3 linked regions of the Homo sapiens genome follow. The protein of the gene in region 1 purifies or fractionates together with the protein of each later gene. This does not show direct contact. Each region holds a gene or a part of one and is shown in the gene's direction. Other genes may lie near its edges.

The links. Proteins that work in one complex are often made in the same cells at the same time.
Region 2: the proteins of POLA1 (region 1) and POLE fractionate together in Homo sapiens (co-fractionation; 2 studies listed by BioGRID). This does not show direct contact.
Region 3: the proteins of POLA1 (region 1) and LIG1 fractionate together in Homo sapiens (co-fractionation; 2 studies listed by BioGRID). This does not show direct contact.

The regions. Positions count from the first base shown.
Region 1 is NC_000023.11:24,696,914-24,703,949, forward strand, and holds part of POLA1 (DNA polymerase alpha catalytic subunit), read left to right. Parts: intron 1-2,511; coding exon 2,512-2,636; intron 2,637-6,337; coding exon 6,338-6,434; intron 6,435-6,467; exon of another isoform or gene 6,468-7,036. UniProt on the Homo sapiens protein: Catalytic subunit of the DNA polymerase alpha complex (also known as the alpha DNA polymerase-primase complex) which plays an essential role in the initiation of DNA synthesis.
Region 2 is NC_000012.12:132,677,343-132,684,378, reverse strand, and holds part of POLE (DNA polymerase epsilon catalytic subunit A), read left to right. Parts: intron 1-3,099; coding exon 3,100-3,241; intron 3,242-3,691; coding exon 3,692-3,772; intron 3,773-4,156; coding exon 4,157-4,201; intron 4,202-4,332; coding exon 4,333-4,425; intron 4,426-4,727; coding exon 4,728-4,882; intron 4,883-6,659; coding exon 6,660-6,801; intron 6,802-6,935; coding exon 6,936-7,016; intron 7,017-7,036. UniProt on the Homo sapiens protein: Catalytic component of the DNA polymerase epsilon complex. Participates in chromosomal DNA replication.
Region 3 is NC_000019.10:48,118,345-48,125,380, reverse strand, and holds part of LIG1 (DNA ligase 1), read left to right. Parts: intron 1-2,062; coding exon 2,063-2,207; intron 2,208-2,364; coding exon 2,365-2,447; intron 2,448-4,058; coding exon 4,059-4,211; exon of another isoform or gene 4,212-5,214; intron 5,215-6,190; coding exon 6,191-6,244; intron 6,245-7,036.

The DNA.
Region 1 (7,036 bases):
GCCTCTTCTTTTGCTTGTGCCACTTTTTACTTTGTTCTCTGTGAAATTTGACTCCTTTTTCTAGGCCTGTATTGGAAACCTCTCCTGTGAAGCCTTCCTTGATTTTCCAGGCAAAATTAACAGCTCTCTCCTCTGTACATTTCCTCAGTACTGAGTTCTTACCTTTTCTATGGCACCATGTTTATATTGTGATGGTAATTTCAGGTACTTTGCTTTACTTGACTGGGGGCCTCTTTTGGACAGGCAGCTCTGTCTTATTTGTGATTGTACCCTAAACCCTGTGTAGTGGAACATTGTTGCCTGTGTAGTGGGACGTTGCCTGTGTAGTGGAACATTGTTGCCTGTGTAGTGGAACATTGTTGCCTATGGAGTAAGTGCATTTGAAGACCTACAGATGTCAGGCATCAAGGGAGTCTTGAGGGGAATCGCTTTTCACTTTCAGGGGTCATGTTCAGTAATCTTCAAAGCCTTTTCATGTAGGCCTGTTCACGATTTTTGAAATCATTTGAGTGACATCCAAGTTTTTGTGGCTGTCATCATTAAGTACCTTTATTCCTTAATTTTTACTTAATGTCTTTCTGAAAATGGATTTAAAAGTCAAATGTGAAAGTCAAACAATAGAGTGTGATATTATAAAGAGAGATTCCATTTCTAGAAAGCTAGAAAAAAATAAGATCTCTAATTATGCCTTACCTTTAGGCTATAGTTTCCAGCAGTTTATTGCCAGCATTTGGTACATGTTCTTTAAATTGTATCTTCTATTTCAGTCAAACACTTAGTCAAGCAGCTTAATGTTGTTATGAACATTCTAGTGGGGTTGGAGTTTTAGGCTGCCTCTTATCCATACTTCTTTTCTTTGCCTGCTCCTTTTTATAAATTAATTAGCACCAAACACAGTAAAATACTAGATTTCACAGACATAGATGGCAATCATGCTGAGCCTAAACTCGTAGTTGACAGGCAGCACTGTTATGCTTGACTTAGTTTTTCATCAGTGGGTATGTGAAAGTCTTTAATTCTGTGGATGAATTTTTTTTTTTTTTTTTGAGATAGAGTCTCGCTCTGTCACCCAGGCTGGAGTGCAGTGGTGCAATCTCGGCTCACTGCAACCTCCATCTCCTGGGTTTAAGGGATTCTCCTGCCTCAGCCTCCTAAGCAGTTGGGATTACAGGTGCCTGCCATCACACCCAGCTAATTTTTGTATTTTTAGTAGAGTTGGGGTTTCACCATGTTGGTCAGGCTGGTCTCAAACTCCTGACCTCAGGTGATCCACCCACCTCAGCCTCCCAAAGTGCTGGGATTACAGGCGTGAGCCACTGCATCCGCTTGAATTTTTTTCAGTGTGTGTGTGGAACGGTCAGTTTATGATGATCGGAGCATGAATAATTCAAAAGTTGAATGAATAAACGCTGAAGTCCTCTGATATTTCAGTAATTTTTGACAAACCATTTAAGTCCCTGTAGTTGTTTTAGTAATGTCCTGTGTCATAACCAACTGAGGCCTTGAAATAAGTGATATACCAATAATCCCCTCAGAGCCATCTTTGTTAAATTTCTCCAGCCCTCAATCTGTTCCTTCTTTGAATTTCCGGGTGCTTTGGCTGAATCTCTTTTAAGGCATTTATTATCTCTAAATATTGTTTAGAGCCAGTTGCTACTTGTCTCCCATGTTAGATAGTAAGTTCTGTGAGTACAGAGACCATGTCTTTTTTATCTTTTTTTGTTGTTGTTGTTTTTTGTTTTTGTTTTTTGTTTTTTGAGATGGAGTTTCTCTCTTTTTGCCCAGGCTGGAGTGCAATGGTGCGATCTCAGCTCGCTGCAGCCTCCGCCTCCCGGGTTCAAGTGTTTCTCCTGCCTCAGCCTCCCAAGTAGCTGGGGTTACAGGCATGCACCATCATGCCTGGCTAATTTTGTATTTTTAGTAGAGATGGGGTTTCACCATGTTGGCCAGGCTGGTCTCGAACTCCTGACCTCGGGTGATCTGCCTGCCTCAGCCTCCCAAAGTGCTGGGATTACAGGTGTGAGCCACCACGCCCAGCCTGTCTTTGTGTCTCATAGTGCCTAGTACTTTGCAAAGAGTAGATGCTCCTTGAAGCCTTTTAGATATTGATTGACAGATTGCAAAATGAATAGTGCTTTTATAACCCACTGGATTACTTCTGGCTGGTCATTTCTAATGGAAAGGTGATAAATTAGCTAACAGCTGATCTCCCTTGTTTAGTGTCTCCGCAGGATATCAGTTGAATTGGGAATTTTCCTCTTTTTAGAGAAAAAAATAACAGTGACTTTAATTGTTTTAACAGGATCTTGGAGGAACTTTCTGGCGAGTCATGTATATTTGGATATGTATGTTTGGCCATGAGCTTTGTGAATTATTTACATTATAAACATTATCTACTTGTATATTACTAAAATTGTATGTTATTGTTGGCTAGAAACTTTTCCTTTGTGTTTGAGGGAAGATGGCTGACAATTTTGTAACATCTGTTGTAAATTTTTTTTCTTTTTTCAGCTCTGTCAGATTCAGGGAGTTTTGTATCTTCTCGAGCCCGGCGAGAAAAAAAATCAAAGAAGGGGCGCCAAGAAGCCCTAGAAAGACTGAAAAAGGCTAAAGCTGGTGAGAAGTATAAATATGAAGTAAGTAACCATTTTTCTTCTTTATTCTTCCTGTGCATCATCTAATTCATAGCCTGCAGGTAGTCTTATGTCACCTTTGCCCCAGATTAGAAATACTCATATATTTTAAACTTTTTGTAATGGGAATTTATTAGTATTGGACAAGCATGGGTATGAGGTAGATTTACAGATCATGGAGAATGTTCGACCCTTAAAGTTCCTATAAGGTATTTTAAAGATGATTTTAAAATTCCAAAATGAAAGTACATAGTCATATCTATATTTTTCCTTATTGAGCATGCTGTATCTATGGTAAGTCCCATGGGTTTGTTGGGGTCATTTAGAGATGCTTTTACTTACTCTTAAGGTATTGAGCAGTCTAAGTGCTACTTCTTGGAGAGAACTGTTCTTCCTAATCTCATTTGCAAGGGTAGTGGCAGTGGAGACTTGGACCTTAACTTCTGCCGTGTTCTGCTTGTAAGATTGAATGTGATGCTCTTTTGGTTTTCCTCTACCCACTGTTTATGGCCTGCAGGTCAAAAACAGAGTGGCCACCATCTGCATAAATATTGTCTAGCATCACCTTCAGGGCTTCCTGAGTATCTTAATTGCCTTATGGCCAGAAAGTGATTAACCAATACTAGAAAATAACAACCATAACTGATAGACTTTTTGAACTAACATATTATTCTAAGTGTGTTTACCAATGTGTTTATTCATTTAATCTTTTCAATAACCAAATGAAATTAGATACTATGATTAATAACATTTTGCAGGTGAGATATCCGAGGCACAGAAAGTTTAGTGAGGTTACAATGGCAGATTCTTTTTTGAACCCAGACAGTCTGGCTTCAGAATATTTCTGTTTAACCAGTTAACCAAATAAAAGAATATTTGCCATTTGTCACCATTTGTTCAAGTTAAGTGAGGCAACCAGATCATAAAAGGTTGCTAAAAGGATTTCAGTAAAACAGGAATAAAGCATTTTTTTTGTTTTTGAGATGGAGTCTCTCTCTGTTGCCCAGGCCGGAGTGCAATGGCACGATCTTGGTTCACTGCAGCTTCCACCTCCCAGGTTCAAGCGATTCTCCTGCTTCAGCTTCCCGAGTAGCTGGGATTACAGGCGCCCACCACCACGCCTGGCTAATTTTTGTATTTTTAGTAGAGACGGGCTTTCACCATGTTGGTCAGGCTGGTCTTGAACTCTTGACTTCAAATGGTCCACCCGCCTCGGCCTCCCAAAGTGCTGGGATTACAGGCGTGAACCACCACACTGAGCCCAGGACTAAAACATTTTTAATGTAGGTACTTGTATAAAGGAGTTCCATGGGGCATTTCAGATGTTGGCACAATGTGGCTGATTTCCCTTTAACACTGTGATGTTAATTGTATGGCTCTAAGAGTTCATGCTGAGCAGTAGTAATGTTGTTTTTAAAGATTGAGTCGAAATGACTTTTTACTCAAAATGATTTTTAAAAATAGTTTTCTGGTATCTCCTTGATAATATAGTGAATCACTTAAGTAAGAGACAAAGTCTGTCTTCAACCAACAAAAATAATAACGCCAGTTCCCCTCCCACCCCCAAAAAAGAAAGTTGGTCAGTATAGTAATATTAATTGGACTATTTTGCATCTCTTTTGTTAAAAGCTTAATTTGGTAAGGCAGGTTGTTTCTGTTACTAGATGGTTAAAGACCAAATCAGTATTTGCCAGTGATTCCTGTAGAGTAGGCTAAAAAGGAGGTGAAAACTCAAATCCCGTAATTATTATAAGCCTTATAGGTGTGGCAGAAATCCAGTCAGCTCTGGCCACTGGATTCCAAAAGCTCTGTCCAAGTTTTTTCCTAGGGTATTAACTCTTCAGATGGAGTTGTTTCTCCCGTACTCCATTTGAGAAAGGTAGAACTCTTTTTTTTTTTTTTTTTTGAGGTGGAGTTTTGCTCTTGTTGCTCAGGCTGGAGTGCGATGGCATGATCTTGGCTCACTGCAACCTCAGCTTCCCAGGTTCAAGCGATTGTCCTGCTTCAGCCTCCCAAGTAGCTGGGATTACAGGTGTCTGCCACCACGCCTGGCTAATTTTTATAATTTTAGTAGAGACGGGGTTTCACCATGTCGGTCAGGCTGGCCTGGAACTCCTGACTTCAGGTGATCCACCTGCCTTGGCCTCCCAAAGTGCTGGGATTACAGGCGTGAGCCACCACACCCGGCTGAGGTAGAACTCTTGAGAGAATGGGAGAATTTTTTTTTTTTTTAATCTCGCTCTCTCTCCCAGGCTGGAGTGCAGTGGTGTGTTCTTGGCTCACTGCAACCTCCACCTCCCAGGTTCAAGCGATTCTCCTGCTTCAGCCTCCTGAGTAGCTGGGATTACAGGCGCCCCCCACCATGCCCAGCTAATTTTTGTATTTTTAGTAGAGATGGGGTTTCACCACGTTGGCCAGGCTGGTCTTGAACTCCTCACCTCAAGTAATCTGCTCACCTTGGCCTCCCAAAGTGCTGGGATTACAGGCGTGAGCCACTGCACCTGGCCGAGAATCAGGTACTTTTTTTTTTTTTGAGATGGAGACTCGGTCTCTTACCCAGGCTGGAGTGCAGTGCATGATCTCGGCTCACTGCATCACTGCAACCTCCACCTCCCGGGTTCAAGTGATTCTCCTGCCTCAGCCTCCTGAGTAGCTGGGACTGCAGGCATATGCCACCACGCCTGGCTAATTTTTGTATTTTTAGTAGAGATGGGGTTTCACTATGTTGGCCAGGCTGGCCTCAAACTCCTGACCTCAGGTGATCCACCCACCTGGGCCTCCCAAAGTGCTGGGATTACAGGCGTGAGCCACTGTGCCCAGCATTTGTTAATTTTTAATAAGTATCTATGAGATTTTGCAAACCAGCCCACCAGAGTCTCATCTGGAAAGTCACTGGCCTTTCCCCATGGGCAGCTGCAGCAGTGGTGTGTATCTTTCATTTGTTGCTTTAGCTGTGCAGAGGTTGTCTGCTTTACTCATACCAGTAGCTCATAGTGTTCTGACCCTCTTGCAGTCAGGCAGCCAATATGATTGGAGGACCTGCCACTCTCTGGACTTGCCTTTCAAATAGCTCAGCGTTTAAGTCCTTGTGTGGTTTCAAGACCTGAGGATGGTGGAGTTTCAGTGGTAATACAAACAGGGTCACTCAAAAACTATTTCTGGTTTGCCTGTAGAATATGCAATATGTTTGTTTTGCTAATTTTTGGAAGGGGATGGATGAGGGAGATTTTCCTTCTGAATTGTATTTGGTTGATTGAACAGGCATGAAAATTATCGTCTATTTGCAGAGCGTACATCAGCTAGTGGAGAGGGAAGTGGCATGCCTTACAGGTTTGCTAAGTGTAGGAGAAACCAGTCTAGAAATTACAAGTGAATAATTCCCCAAAGCAGCTAATGAAGAATTGGCTATAATTCAGTTTGTTTTTTATGAAATAGATGAGTAATTGATGGTATGACAAGTGTATTATGCTAATGGAATCATTTAATATCTTATGTTAACACCCACCTAAAAGGAATACTAAGTTAATTGATGTCTATTTAAGGAAAACCCTGTAGTGGTGTTGAATGTCAGAACTCATGATTTGGTTGCAGCTACTCCTTCAGTCTGCCATTCCAGTTTCAATTTGACAATTTTTTCATCAGAATTATTTAACACTTTGACTCCTCTATTTGAAGCTTTTTTCCTGAAACTTGTATAATGGTAGGTCGAGGACTTCACAGGTGTTTATGAAGAAGTTGATGAAGAACAGTATTCGAAGCTGGTTCAGGCACGCCAGGATGATGACTGGATTGTGGATGATGGTAGGTGGGGCGGAGGTGGGGGCGGGGATGTTGCTTCCTAGGCACTGTGTTAGTTGCTTCTTGTAGATTCTCACTCATGTGGTGGAGTTGCTGCTTTGCCTGGGCAAATGTAAGGCACTGTTAGGATCTTACCTTTGGTTTGGATTTTCCTTTAATTATTTGAGGATGAGGAAGCAGAATAGCAGGACATTTATTTGGGGATATTTTGGAGAATCTAGGCACATACCTCAGGATGTAGTATAAATCCTCCAGGTAATGGCTGTGTAAGAATTGGGAGGAGCCCCTTGTCTGTGGGGCCAATGCACAGCGCTTGGAATTAAGGAATGCAGGTTCGGGATCCATCATTCCTACTTTCCAATTCTATGACCTTGGACAAGTCACTTAATCTCTCTGCGCCTTAGAGTCTTCATCTGTAATATGGGGATGAGAAAACTACCTTCTCCCAGAGTTGTGAGGTGTATATGAGGTTCTAGGTATGAAAATTAACTTGGTCAGTAGAAAGCACCATACAAAGGCTGGTCCTAATGTCCTGTGCCCCTTCTGAAAGCTCATTGGTTCTCACTTGTAGGGTCTGACTTCATGGCCATGTGAATGCTGACCAC
Region 2 (7,036 bases), on another chromosome or scaffold:
CAGTAACCAGTCAATGGTAGCTCTCTGTGAATGAGAGCCTGTGTGGAGTACTGGGACGGTGTGATATAGTAACCAGTCAATGGTAGCTCTGTGAATGAGAGCCTGTGTGGAGTACTGGGACGGTGTGATACAGTAACCAGTCAATGGTAGCTCTCTGTGAATGAGAGCCTGTGTGGAGTACTGGGACGGTGTGATACAGTAACCAGTCAATGGTAGCTCTCTGTGAATGAGAGCCTGTGTGGAGTACTGGGACGGTGTGATACAGTAACCAGTCAGTGGTAGCTCTCTGTGAATGAGAGCCTGTGTGGAGTACTGGGACGGTGTGATACAGTAACCAGTCAATGGTAGCTCTCTGTGAATGAGAGCCTGTGTGGAGTACTGGGACGGTGTGATATAGTAACCAGTCAATGGTAGCTCTCTGTGAATGAGAGCCTGTGTGGAGTACTGGGACGGTGTGATATAGTAACCAGTCGATGGTAGCTCCCTGTGTGACACTTATCCCCATTTTTCAGATTTCTTACTGTCCCTGGATTAAAAGTGAGATACACAGCTCAGAGAAAGCAGTTTTGGGAGGAAATATGGTCCCAGTGAGCAGTTTTCTAGTCTACTTAATCCAACTTACTTGAGGCAAGGATATTTGGAGGACTGGCATAGAGGGCCGTGCGCCCCTGTTAAGAGGTGATGCCTCGTAAATAGCACTTCATTCACTCTTGATTTTGATAAAGATCTGGGACTCAGAACTGAGGCTGTTCTCTAGCAAGATTTGGAATATAGTTTTTCTGTGTTTTTGATTACGGGTGCATTCAACTATTTAAAAGATTAAACCTTTATTATACAGTATGGTGGTGTATCAGTTTCCTATTGCTGCAGTAACACATGATCACTTAGTGACTATATAAATTTATTCTCTTACGGTTTTAGAAGTCAGAAGTCGTAATATGAAAGTGTCTGGTTGGTTATATTTATTGTGATGGTTCCCGGGGGAGAATCTGTTTCCTTGCTGCTTCTTCATCTTCAGAACCAAGGGTTGCATCTCCTCTCCCCCCTACCCTCTCTCTCCCATCCCTTTCTCCTTCCTGACTCTAGCTCTCCTGCCTCACTCTACAAGGATTCTTGTGATTACACTGCGCCCACCCAGCTAAGCAGAATCTCAAGGCCCTTAATTTAGTCAGATCTGCAAAGACCCTTTTGTCTTGTAAGATAACATTCACAGGTTTGGGGGATTAGGATGTGGGTCTTTCATGGGGGGTGTCATCCTGCCTGCCTACCACAAGTGGTTATAATCTTTCATGAGAAGTAAGGATCCTAGTCTTGGAATATGGTCATTCTGCTCTTGAGTTGAAGGTGATCCAAGGAATACCTTCAGACAAAGGAAGGGTCTTCCTTTCTTTTTTTATCTTGTTCTTTTTTTATTTTATTTTTTTTTTAGACGGAGTCTCGCTCTGTCGCCCAGGCTGGAGTGCAGTGGCATGATCCCAGCTCACTGCAAGCTCTGCCTCCTGGATTCACGCCATTCTCCTGCCTCAGCCTCCCGAGTAGCTGGGACTACAGGCGCCCGCCACCACGCCCGGCTAATTTTTCGTATTTTTAGTAGAGACGGGGTTTCACCATGTTAGCCAGGATGGTCTCAAACTCCTGGCCTCAAGTCATCCACCCTCCTTGGCCTCCCAAAGTGCTGGGATTACAGTTGTGAGCCACTGCGCCTGGCCCTCAACCTTTTTTTGAGGTAATTGTAGATTGATTCTCATGCATTTGTCAGAAATGATACAGAGATTCCCGTATCACTTCACCATAACATCTTGTGTAAGTAGAGTACAATTGTCACAACTAAGAAATTGACATTGAGACGACCCATCTAATTTATTTTATCTTATTTTATTTTATTTATTTTTTTGAGACGAAGTTTCACTCTTGTCACCCAGGCTGGAGTGCAGTGGCGCAATCTTGGCTCACTGCAACCTCCACCTCTAGGGTTCAAGTGATTCTCCTGCCTCAGCCTCCTGAGTAGCTGGGATTATAGGCCCACCCCACCACACCCAGCTAATTTATTTATTTATTTATTTATTTTTATTTATTTTTTTTTTTTTGCCGGAGTCTCGCTCTGCTGCCCAGGCTGGAGTGTGGTGGCGCGTTCTCGGCTCACTGCAAGCTCCACCTCCTGGGTTCACGCCATTCTCCTGCCTCAGCCTCCTGAGTAGCTGGGACTATAGGCACCCACCACCACGCCTGGCTAAGTTTTTGTATTTTTAGTAAAGACGGGGTTTCACTGTATTAGCAGGATGGTCTAGATCTCCTCACCTCGTGATCCGCCCGCCTCGGCCTCCCACGGTGCTGGGATTTAATTTTTTGTATTTTTAGTAGAGACAGGGTTTCACCATGCTGGCCAGGCTGGTCTCAAACTCCTGACCTCAGGTGATCCACCCGCCTTGGCCTCCCAAAGTTTTGGGATTACAGGCGTGAGCCACTGTGCCTGGCCTGACAATCCGTCTGTTTTATTCAAATCATGTCAGTGTTACATGCACTCTCATGAGCCACCGCGTCTGGCTAGTTTTATGCATTTTTAGTGTCCCAAGAGGCAACAGTGTCTAGCCATCATGACTCTTTTTGTTAGTATTCTGGTTATAAAGTTGAACAGGTTTTGAAGGGCCTGCCCTAATTGTGTTTTTCCAATGAGTCCTTTTATCTTAATGAGCCTTTTTCCAAGCTCGGGGTTTTTCAGGAATATATATACCCTGTCATATCCGAAACACTTAACACTAGGTGGGATGAGGGTTGCAGAAGTAGGTGGCAGTCGGATCACAAGGTCAGGAGATCGAGACCATCCTGGCTAACACGGTGAAACCCCGTCTCTACTAAAAATACAAAAAATTAGCCAGGCGTGGTGGCTGTCGCCTGTGGTCCCAGCTACTCGGGAGGCTGAGGCAGGAGAATGGCGTGAACCCGGGAGGCGGAGCTTGCAGTGAGCCGAGATCACACCACTGCACTCCAGCCTAGGCGACAGAGCAAGACTCCGTCTCAAAAAAAAAGAAAAAAAAGAAAAAAAGAAGCAGCAGCAGGTGGCATTACAAATTAAGCACGGGGTTCCCTTCTTTCACTCAGGGATGATGGCGCCACTTCCTCAGTTTCGGCACTCAAGCGCCTGGAACGGAGTCAGTGGACGGATAAGATGGATTTGCGGTTTGGTTTTGAGCGGCTGAAGGAGCCTGGTGAGAAGACAGGCTGGCTCATTAACATGCATCCTGTAAGCACTAGGTCCTTCTCCCACCCAGGAATATGGCTGCAACCCTTCTGGTCATAGCGTGGTCCTTATCTAAAGAGTGGGGGACACATGAGGGAACTTTGAGTGAATCAGGTGGGAGATGTGAAGGTTCCCAGCTCTCCTTTCCTCTTTAACGTCATTGAGGGCCACAGAGAGGCCACTGTGAGAAGCCGGAGGTGATGGGCATCTCTTTTAGCCATCAGAATAAAGCTTTCAAGGATTATGAGGGAGAAATTGAGAGAGATCCCCATTTGGAGGCCGTTACAGTGTGGTTCTTGTGAATAAGGCTGGTAGTGTTAATGTAGGGGTGGAGTAAAGACCTAGATGAGAGGGTTTGTTTCTAAAGTGCTGAGTTTCCCGAAAGGTAGGAGGAAAGTTTCTCTAACTGTGTAGAGGATGGTCTTGTGTCTGTGTTGACTGATTCTCTTGTAGACCGAGATTTTAGATGAAGATAAGCGCTTAGGCAGTGCAGTGGATTACTACTTTATTCAAGATGACGGAAGCAGATTTAAGGTAAGCCCCTGACTGCGACAAGCTAAAACCCACTTTTATGGGTGTTCATGTAGCTCTGTGACTGTCAGGGAGGGCATGGGAGGCTTCCAGTGCACAGCAGCCCATAGCCCAGCAGAACTCGGGCCCCTGGAGGCCCCATCAGTCATCACGTAAGATGTCCTGAGAGAGGTCAGTTCAGGAAGACTCTGAATGGTGAGAAGTAGCGTGTCTTTCAGATTCTTGCCCCTGTGAAAAGTGCGCATTCTGACTTCCTGTATGCTACCAAGGTCAAGGCTACCCTGGCCCTAGGCTGTTCATGGGATATAGGAGCAAGCAATGTGTTTTCACTTTTCTCTCGCTTTCTTCTTTCTCATCACCCCTGGATGGGTTGGTGACTCTTAACAGGTGGCTTTGCCCTATAAACCGTATTTCTACATTGCGACCAGAAAGGTGAGTGTGTTTCATAGACTCAGGTCAGACGACCTGTGTGTCATTCTGTGGTGGGCTTTGCAACTGGGAAATAGGCAAGGAAGGAAATGTATTTTACCAATGGAAAGCCTTTTCATTCTGATCCTGATTAGGGTTGTGAGCGAGAAGTTTCATCTTTTCTCTCCAAGAAGTTTCAGGGCAAAATTGCAAAAGTGGAGACTGTCCCCAAAGAGGATCTGGACTTGGTGAGTATCACCCAGACTTTCCAGGGGTAAATGAGGCCAGAGTCTACATTGTTCCTGGCAGGTGGGATCGGAAGAGGTAGAAATTCAGGTCATCTGTTGGGTGATGGGGCGGTGTGGTGACCGTCTATAAAATTCCTTCCAAAGAGCTCTAGTGGTGTTAGTTGGTGCCACGTGCAGAGTTGGACAAGGTGCCTTGAAGTCGCCAACTCTTTGACTTGTGTGTTTACCTTTGAGTGTTTACCCTCTCACCCATAAAGTCCTATTTCTCTTGAACCAATGAGCGTGATCTCTTCGCATTATAGCCAAATCACTTGGTGGGTTTGAAGCGAAATTACATCAGGCTGTCCTTCCACACTGTGGAGGATCTTGTCAAAGTGAGGAAGGAGATCTCCCCTGCCGTGAAGAAGAACAGGGAGCAGGATCACGCCAGCGACGCGTACACAGCTCTGCTTTCCAGGTAAACTTTGGTCTTGTGAGCAAAGCATCAGCGGTTCAGAACGACAAGATGGATAGGAGACAGGAACACGTAGCAACAAAGTTACCTTAATGGCTGGCTCTGTTTGATACGGAAAACTTGAGCAATTAGGTAGAGATTTCTGTATGTTCTGTGTTAAATAAACAGTGGCTTCCCAGGTTATATTTTATGTGTTAGCTCTCTTTTCCAATGGAGGGGTGGGTTTATGGCTCTAAAATTGAGTGGTTGTAATAGTAAAGTCACCTTAGAGGGGAAAAGATCCCTCATCCTACTGCCCTAACACAATCCATCTATGAATTTCATTAAGTGCTGAGATTTACACAGCACATCTCCAGAGAACCTTGGGTATCGTCCACAGAAATTTAAGCCTAGAACACTAAACACTGTTCTTCAAGTATTTGAGCATCAACAATAATAGGATGCAAAGTAACCAGTTAGGAAGAGAAAATCTTGAGTAATGAAGTTTAGATGACTTCGGAAGAACCTACCTTACCCTCTGACAAAAGAGGATCAGTTTGGGATGCTGAACATTTCTACAGTCCCTACCCGGAGTCCGCCTTCCCTGGCAATGCCACAAGTTGCTTTTTGAAATATTGGAAGGTGTGATCAGAGACTGAGTCCTCAGAGACTTGAGCCATATCTGAGACTCGTCTGTCTTTTTCCCCCTGAATAGCCCGTTCAGTATTTGAGCTTATAGGCCAATAGTGGCCGCAATGGTGGGCCACTTCTTTAGACATGGCAGAGACCCATGCACAGGCTGTGTGAAGCCCAGGCCTGCTCTTCAGCCTGCATGAGGCAGCCTCCTGAGTATCAGGACCATGGTGGGATGGTCATGCCTGGCTCTCCTGACTGGCAGCACTTAATGTTTTCTTTCTTTTTTCTTCTATTTACTTATTTGTTTTGAGACAGGGTCTTGCTCTGTTGCCCAGGCTGGAGTGCAGTGGTGCAATCATAGCTCACTGTGGCCTCGAACTCCTGGGCTCAAGCGATCCTTTCACCTCAGCCTCCTGAGTAACTGGGATCACAGGTGTGTACCCCATGCCTGGCTAATTATTATTATTATTATTATTACTTTTGTAGAGATGAGTCTCCCTATGTTGCCCAGGCCTGTCTTGAACTCCTGGGCCGAAGCGATCCTCCTGCCTCCCAGAGTGCTGGGATTAGAGGCATAAGCCACCATGCTTGGCCCTCTTTTTTTTTTTCTAGTTGGGGTGTAACTCACATCATATAAAATGAATACATCTTACACTGAATTTTCTCCTGTCTGTAGAGTTATCATCCAAGCTATTCTTTATTTTTTTGAGATGGAGTCTCGCTCTGTTGCCCAGGCTGGAGTGCAGTGGCGCAATCTGGGTTCACTGCAACCTCCGCCTCCTGGGTTCAAGTGATTCTCCTGCCTCAGCCTCCCAGGTATCTGGGGTTACAGACATGCGCCACCACGCCTGGCTAATTTTTGTATTTTTAGTAGAGATGAGGTTTCGTCGTGTTGGCCAGGCTCGTCTCGAACTCCTGACCTCGGGTGATCCGCCTTCCTTGGCCTCCCAAAGTGCTGGGATTACAGGCGTGAGCTGCCACGCCTGGCCCAGTCCAAGCCATTCTTAAAGGAAGGACTGCCTTGGTCGTTGAAACCACATCAATTTACCTTTTGTGTTTCCTCGGTTTGAACTCTGGTCTCACCTCTTCCTACTGAGTTGGAACTCTGGTCTCACCTCCTCCAGACCCTGGCAGCTGAGTTAGTTGCTCTCTTGTTAATTCCTAGTGTTCTGCAGAGGGGCGGTGTCATTACTGATGAAGAGGAAACCTCTAAGAAGATAGCTGACCAGTTGGACAACATTGTGGACATGCGCGAGTACGATGTTCCCTACCACATCCGCCTCTCCATTGACCTGAAGATCCACGTGGTGAGTGGGGCAGGGTTGGGTCGCTGCTCACATGAATTTCCTAACAGCCAGGAGATGATCATTATGGGTGAATCCACAGAAGAATAGACTTTCCTGGATGTAGAACTCTAGTTAGCACACTGTGTGTTTTGCAGGCTCATTGGTACAATGTCAGATACCGAGGAAATGCTTTTCCGGTAGAAATCACCCGCCGAGATGACCTTGTTGAACGACCTGTAAGTTTTGCTTGTGTTAC
Region 3 (7,036 bases), on another chromosome or scaffold:
TACTGTAGGAAGACAGTCAGAGTCTGATTTTTGTTTCCCGTGATGTCTGGGGAGAGGAAAGTCAAGTATCAGGTGCTTTCCAAACACTGGATACTTTGTGGGTTTTTCTGCAGGATTTGATCATCCCTGCTCAGCTGGTTCCTTTGTCTCCCATGAGCATTTCAAATATTTCTTCTCATTCCTTCAAATATTCCTTCTTTAAAATTTATTGATGGCCTATTTTGTTGTATAGGACTTGTTTGAGCTATTACTTTTACAAATTTTTTTATTAGTAGTAGTTGAACATGGATGAACTATTTTTATGTAGTCAAGTATATCATTTTTTTTCTGTTTAATGTGTCCTCATCCCCATGATTTTTTTTTTTTTTTTGAGACACAGTCTCTGTCGCCCAGGCTGGAGTGCAGTGGTGTGATCTTGGCTCACTGCAGCCTCCGCCTCTGGCGTTCAAGTGATTCTCCTGCGTCAGCCTCCCAAGTAGCTGGGATTACAGGCACCCACCACCACACCCAGCTAATTTGTGCATTTTTAGTAGAGTCGGGGTTTCACCATGTTGGCCAGGCTGATGTTGAACTCCTGACCTCAGGTGATCCACCCACCTCCGCTTTCCAAAGCGCTGAGATTACAGGCATGAGCCACTGCAGTAGCCTACATTTCTAATTTTAGAGCTTCTAGTAGCCATATTAAAAGGTAAGAAGAAACAGATAAAATCATATTTTCTTTAATCCAATGTCTAAGATATTATCCTTTCAATGTGTGATGAATATAAGAAATTATTAACATGGAATTTTACACTCTTTTCTTGGATTAAGTCTTCTAAAGCCAGTGACTGTTTTGCCCTTGGCACATCTCCGATTGAACTTGCTACATTTCAAGGGCTCAATTGCTACACATGGCTGGTGGCGGCTACACTGGGTAGCACGGGCTCAGCTGATCTTCCCAGACGTGCCCTGAGTAGGTATTGCTGCATTTTACAGATGGGAGCTCTGAGGTACACAGAGGGAAACGCTTGCCTGAAGTCACCAGCTAGGAAGCGTGTGGCTGGGATGTAAACCTGAAATGGTCTGACCCCAGATAAATTGTACCTGCTTAACCCTTGTGGCTCCTCTCTCTCATCTTTTCATACAAAATGTTCATGAGCACAATTTTACAACAGAAAAAAGCTGTCCATGGAAAACACGTGAATGTCCCCCTGGAGGGCAAGTGGTGAAGGTAGTTTAACATCATCACAGAGAAGCCCTGAGCAAAGGGCAGACCAGAAACACTGCGCGTGGGTGGGGACCGATCGAACAAAAGAGAAAAGCAATTCAAAGCCACAAGACGGATTAGTCAGTGTTGACATGTGGAGACAACTGCTTTGTCCTTTGTTTAAAAACACTCAGATCACCTCCTTCCTCTCTGACACACACTCTTGCAAGGTCCAGCTGGAACTGATTTCAAAGCAAAACACAAAACTGTAAATGTGCTGGAAAAACTCAGTGAAAACTTTTGGAATTCTAAGGAAAGGAGGACTTTTTTTTTTTTTTTTAATTATCTTGGGGATGAGGCTGGATGCAGTGGCTCACGCCTGTAATCCCAACACTTTGGGAGGCTGAGGTGGGTGGATCTCTTGTGATGTGCACCTGTAGTCCCAGCTACTCGGGAGGCCGACGCAAGACAGTCGCTTGAATTCAGGAGGCGGAGGCTGCAGTCAGCCAAGATCGCACCACCGCACTCCAGCCTGGGCGACAGAGCGAGATTCCGTCTCAAAAAAACAAAAACAAAAAACAAAACTGATGAGATGCCCGTAAAGTGTTAATTCAAGCTCCAGCAAGGCCGCAGCCCCCCGTCTGATGCTCCTGAAGTCACCGACTCTAAATGGTGTCGGGCCCTCTTGCCAGTGACTAGCCCCATGCTTTAAGCTCTCAGAATCCTTCTGACATCAGGGTTCTTCCCTCTCAAGGCTTTCCACGAACCCTGTCACTAGTTGTGACCCGCACATGTCCTGTTCGCCTCACATTTAGGGCTTATTGTCTTTATTCTCACAAAGATGTCTCATCTCTCTTCTCCCTGCCGGCCCTGCAGTCCCTGGTACGTGAGCCCCTTTCCCGGCGCCGGCAGCTGCTCCGGGAGAACTTTGTGGAGACAGAGGGCGAGTTTGTCTTCGCCACCTCCCTGGACACCAAGGACATCGAGCAGATCGCCGAGTTCCTGGAGCAGTCAGTGAAAGGTGAGGGTGCTCACTTTTCTCTCCTGAGGTCTGCAGCTTGCGCTGACCCCGGCCTCCCAGCCTGTCCCCAGTCCTGGACCGTTTGACCAGAATCCTGCCTGCTCCGGCGCTTGTGAGCCAGGGCTTCCCAAGGACCACGCTTCTGTGTCTCCCTCAGACTCCTGCGAGGGGCTGATGGTGAAGACCCTGGATGTTGATGCCACCTACGAGATCGCCAAGAGATCGCACAACTGGCTCAAGGTGATTCTCGACCCCCAACTGGGCCTTCTCCACCCCGGGTCTGGAGGTCTGTCCCAGCTAGGCAGTGGATTTCGAGCCTCCACTGTGTACCCTGTCTGAGCTCAGGGCCCCTTTTCACAATCCCACCCCAGCCCCCTGCTGCAACTGAGTTCAGACCTTCTCCCTGCTGCGAGCCCTTGCTCACGAGTTCTGATGGAGAACAGCCCCAGCCCAAGCACCGCACATCCCACGAGGTGCAGCGTGATGAGGTGTCTCTCTCCTGAGCCTGCCGCCCGTGTCGGGCCAGGCTCTTGGGCAGGAATTAAGCCAGGACATGAATAAGAGAAAGTCAGGCAGGAGTGGGCGCCATGAAGAAAAGCAAGTCAGCTCCGGGCCAGCAAGGCGGGGCTGGGAGTGCCCCGGATGATCAGGAAGAGTCTTTCCCAAAGTGAGGGACAGAGCACTAGGGAGGAAAACCCCCGGTGCAGAGACCCTGAGGGAGGAGCAGCCTCTGCGTGTGCAGGGAGCAAGGGCAGGCGAGGCGGGAGGTGAGCTCAGAGTGGGGAGCAGGCCCCAGATGAGGCAGCACCTGGGGCCACTGTGAGATAAAACTGGATCTTCCTCTTGAAGGTTTCAGGAAGTCAGTGGGGGTTCCGTGCCGGGAGTCACAGGTTGTCATTGTGCGAAGCTCCTGGGGTTTCCCCTCGAGTGGAGGACGGGTGTGTTGAGGGCCAGCGAGCAGGAGCCTGTCATCAGTAAGAGTTGATGGATGTTTGAGTGGAGAGGGGCAGTGAGGGGTGGACAAGGGGACTGGAGCGGGAGGCATTGTGGCACTGAGCCGGCCAGGCCTGCTGACTAGCTCTTCCTGTGTACTTATGTCTGTCTGTGGCTGGTTTCCCTCCAGCACAGACCTTTCCTGTCTCAGGAAATAGCACTGTTGTGCCCCCAGGGCTGAGCTTCTGCCTGGCACATGGTTAGCACTTAGTGAACGTTTCTGAACGAATGGGAAAATGCTCTCCCTTTGGAGGAGTGGCCAGAGTGAGTTGGCCACGTCTCTGTCCTGAGGGAAAGACGGCGGCAAGGCTGACTCCTGAGGTCCCATCGATCCCGCCTGCGTTTCCCATTTGTTCTTATTTATTTATTTATTTATTTTAAGACGGAGTTTCACTCTCATTGCCCAGGCTGGAGTGCAATGGCACGATCTTGGCTCACTGCAACCTCCGCCTCCCGGGTTCAAGCGATTCCCCTGCCTCAGCCTCCCAAGTAGCTGGGATTACAGGCACACGCCACCACGCCCGGCTAATTTTGTATTTTTAATAGAGACGGGGTTTCTCCATGTTGGTCAGACTGGTCTCGAACTCCCGACCTCAGGTGATCCACCCGCCTCGGCCTCCCAAAATGCTGGGATTACAGGCATGAGCCACCGTGCCCGGCCCCATTTGTTCTTATTTAAACCTAGAAACCCTTCCCATGTCCAGTCTCTTCCCAGGGGCCATCCTTGGGGTTCCTTCTGGAAGTTCCCTTCAGACTTACTTCTAGTCCCTCCTCAGTCCACTGAGGAGCCCCTCCCCAGCAGTGAGGGCCCCGCCTTGGGCGCTCCCCCTTCTCATCTCTTGCCTCCCCTTCTCCCAGCTGAAGAAGGACTACCTTGATGGCGTGGGTGACACCCTGGACCTGGTGGTGATCGGCGCCTACCTGGGCCGGGGGAAGCGGGCCGGCCGGTACGGGGGCTTCCTGCTGGCCTCCTACGACGAGGACAGTGAGGAGCTGCAGGCCATATGCAAGGTCCTGGGGAACTGGGGCTGATGGCAGAAGCAGGAGGGAAGGAGATTAGACTCCCGGGGGTATTTCCTATTGCACAACCCAGACCGAGGGGTGCTCACATCCCCCTGTGAAGGATCCGTTCTCCCCAGTTTTTATTTACTTTTTCTGGTTCTATGAGCAACTCTTGCTTCATATAGAAAAACAGGCTGGGATAGAAAGATGTCAGGAATGTGTGTCAGTGAGAGATTGAGATTAGCTACAAATAGTGGTGGCTCACATAAGAAAAGAATTTTTTTGTTATGAAATGAGAAGTGTGGAGGGGGCAGTCTGATGCCATTAGGGATTCAGGTTCCTCCTCTCCCCACATTTTTTTTTGTCCCCACATTTTTTTTTTCTGCCATGTGCCTCTGGCCTCATCATCACAATGTGGCTGCAGGAGTTCCAGCCCTCATGGCCATGCCTGCTCCACGCACCAGGGAAGAGCAAAGGGGGTTGGACCCTGAGTCAGCCTCAGCCAGTGAACACCTTCTGCTCAAGTTCTGTTGCTCATCACTTTGCTCCATGGCTCACCCCTAGCTGCAAGGAATTCTGGGAAATGTAAAGTGATTTACTTTTTTTCAAGTTAAAGTTTTTCTTAAAGCTGTGCACATTTTGGACTAGATTTTCTTACGTATTTCCTATATTCCCCTCTCCAACAAATTTGGGTCTTTTGCCACAGAAACAGAACAAAATATCACCTAGAATCGTACCACCCAGAGACACGCAGTAGTGACATTTGAGGGAATGTTTTATTTACATTTTTGCAAAGTTGTGATCCTTCTCTATGAGTAATTTTCTTTTCTGCCTTTTTACCCTGGAAGTACTTTGTTTTCAGTGTTGTATATGCCCTTAAGCAATATGGCAACAGGACCTGAATGCCCGCACAAGAGTTTTCAAGTGCTGTGCCCCATAGCACATAGTGCTGTGTCCTGAACCAGCTCCCCGTGGCTGTGTGGGGAAGTTGTTGCCGGCTTTGTTCTGATGGGTAATGTGATTACTTAGTGTCCGTTAACCTAAACGATCAGTGACAGAAGTGACTTTTATAAATCACAAATGTTTTGGCCACCAATCTACATTGTCACCATTTTGCATTATTTAGAATAGATTTTTAAATGAGCTATTGTCAGGACAAAAGGCAAAAAGAATCCTTAAGACTCTCAATGCAAAAGGGGCTTTCCAGGTGACGTTTATATTGGTGATTATTGCCCACTTGCTGCGTATCTGCCAGCATCCAGCATTACTGCTAATTTTTAGCCTTTCCTATTTTGGTAGGTGAAAGAAGCTCTTGGCAGTGTTAACATTGGAGATGGGCTGGGCATGGCCACTCACGCCTGTAATCCCAGCACTTTGGGAGGCTGAGGTGGGAGGATCACTTGAGCCCAGGAGTTCGGGACCAGCCTGGGCAACATAGTGAGACCCCACCTCTACAAAAACTTTTTTAAAAAATTAGCCAGGCGTGGTGGTGCATGCCTGTGGTCCCAGCTACTTGGGAGGCTGAGGCAGGAGGATTGCTTGAGCCCAGGAGGTGGAGGTTGCAGTGAGCCAAGATTGCACCACTGCACTCCAGCCTGGATAACAGAGCTACACCCTGTCTCAAAAAAAAAAAAAAAAAAAAAAAAAAAGACTGGAAGTGAGGACAGCCAGTTACTGGGCAGTGAGGATGTGGGTGAGCATAAGGGAGTGACTTCCTGGGGCCAGGGAGACAGTGGAAGCAGCAAGAGTTTCTCCATAAAGCAGAAGACAGGGAGTGGTTCACGGCAGGCCTGCTGGGAGAACATTCCCACCCGGGAGTCTCTGGATGGATGCTCCGCACCCCCAGCTCCCTACTTCCCTGGTTTTCTGTGGATACTGCGTAGACCAGAGTGGGGTGGGGGCCATGAGTGTACACAGCTTTAGATGGCAGGAGCAAGTGCTGGGCCTGTGGCTGGCTGAGCCTCTGACCTCCCGCTTCCTCCCTGCAGCTTGGAACTGGCTTCAGTGATGAGGAGCTGGAGGAGCATCACCAGAGCCTCAAGGTGAGCCATGGCGGCTGCGCCTCAGCCTCCACCCCTCTCCCCCCTGCCCCTGACAGCACAGTCCTTCCATGCAGGGCTCTTGGCTTCCACCATCTTGGGGCTCCAGGTGTGGGCAGGAGGGCAGCAGGCAGTGGAGCTGGCTTTGGAGTCCAGCATCTCCAGGTTCATGTCTCAGCACTGCCGGCTACTAGCTGGTGACCCTGCTCAAGCAGCCTCACCTCCCCAAGCCCTGTGCCTCATTCACACCAGGGGTTAGCCAAAGGACACAGCAGGTGCCATAGCTGCTCCTTGTGAAGTGCCTGTGAGCCCTGATCAATGTGAATGAATGTTGTCATGGTCACAGGCATTTCAGGCATGAGTGTCTGTCCTACATATTGGATCTGTATTAGTTTATTTTCATACTCATACTGCTATGAAGAAATAACCCAAGACTTGCCGGGCGTGGTGGCGCATGCCTGTGGTCCCAGCTACTTGGGAGGCTGAGGCAGAAGAATTGCTTGAACCCAGGATGCAGAGGTTGCAGTGAGCTGAAATCATGCCATTGCACTCCAGCCTGGGAAACAGAGTGAGACTCTGTCTCAAAAAAAAAAAAAAAAAAAAAAGGATCATTTATAAAGAGAGGTTTCCTGGACTCACAGTTCCACACGGCTGGGGAGGCCTCACAGTCATGGCAGAAGGCGAAAGAGGAGCAAAGGCACATCTTACATGGCGCCAGGCAAGAGAGCGTGTGCAGGGGAACTGCCCTTTATAAAGCCGTCAGATCTCGTGAGACTTCCTCACTATCACGAGAAC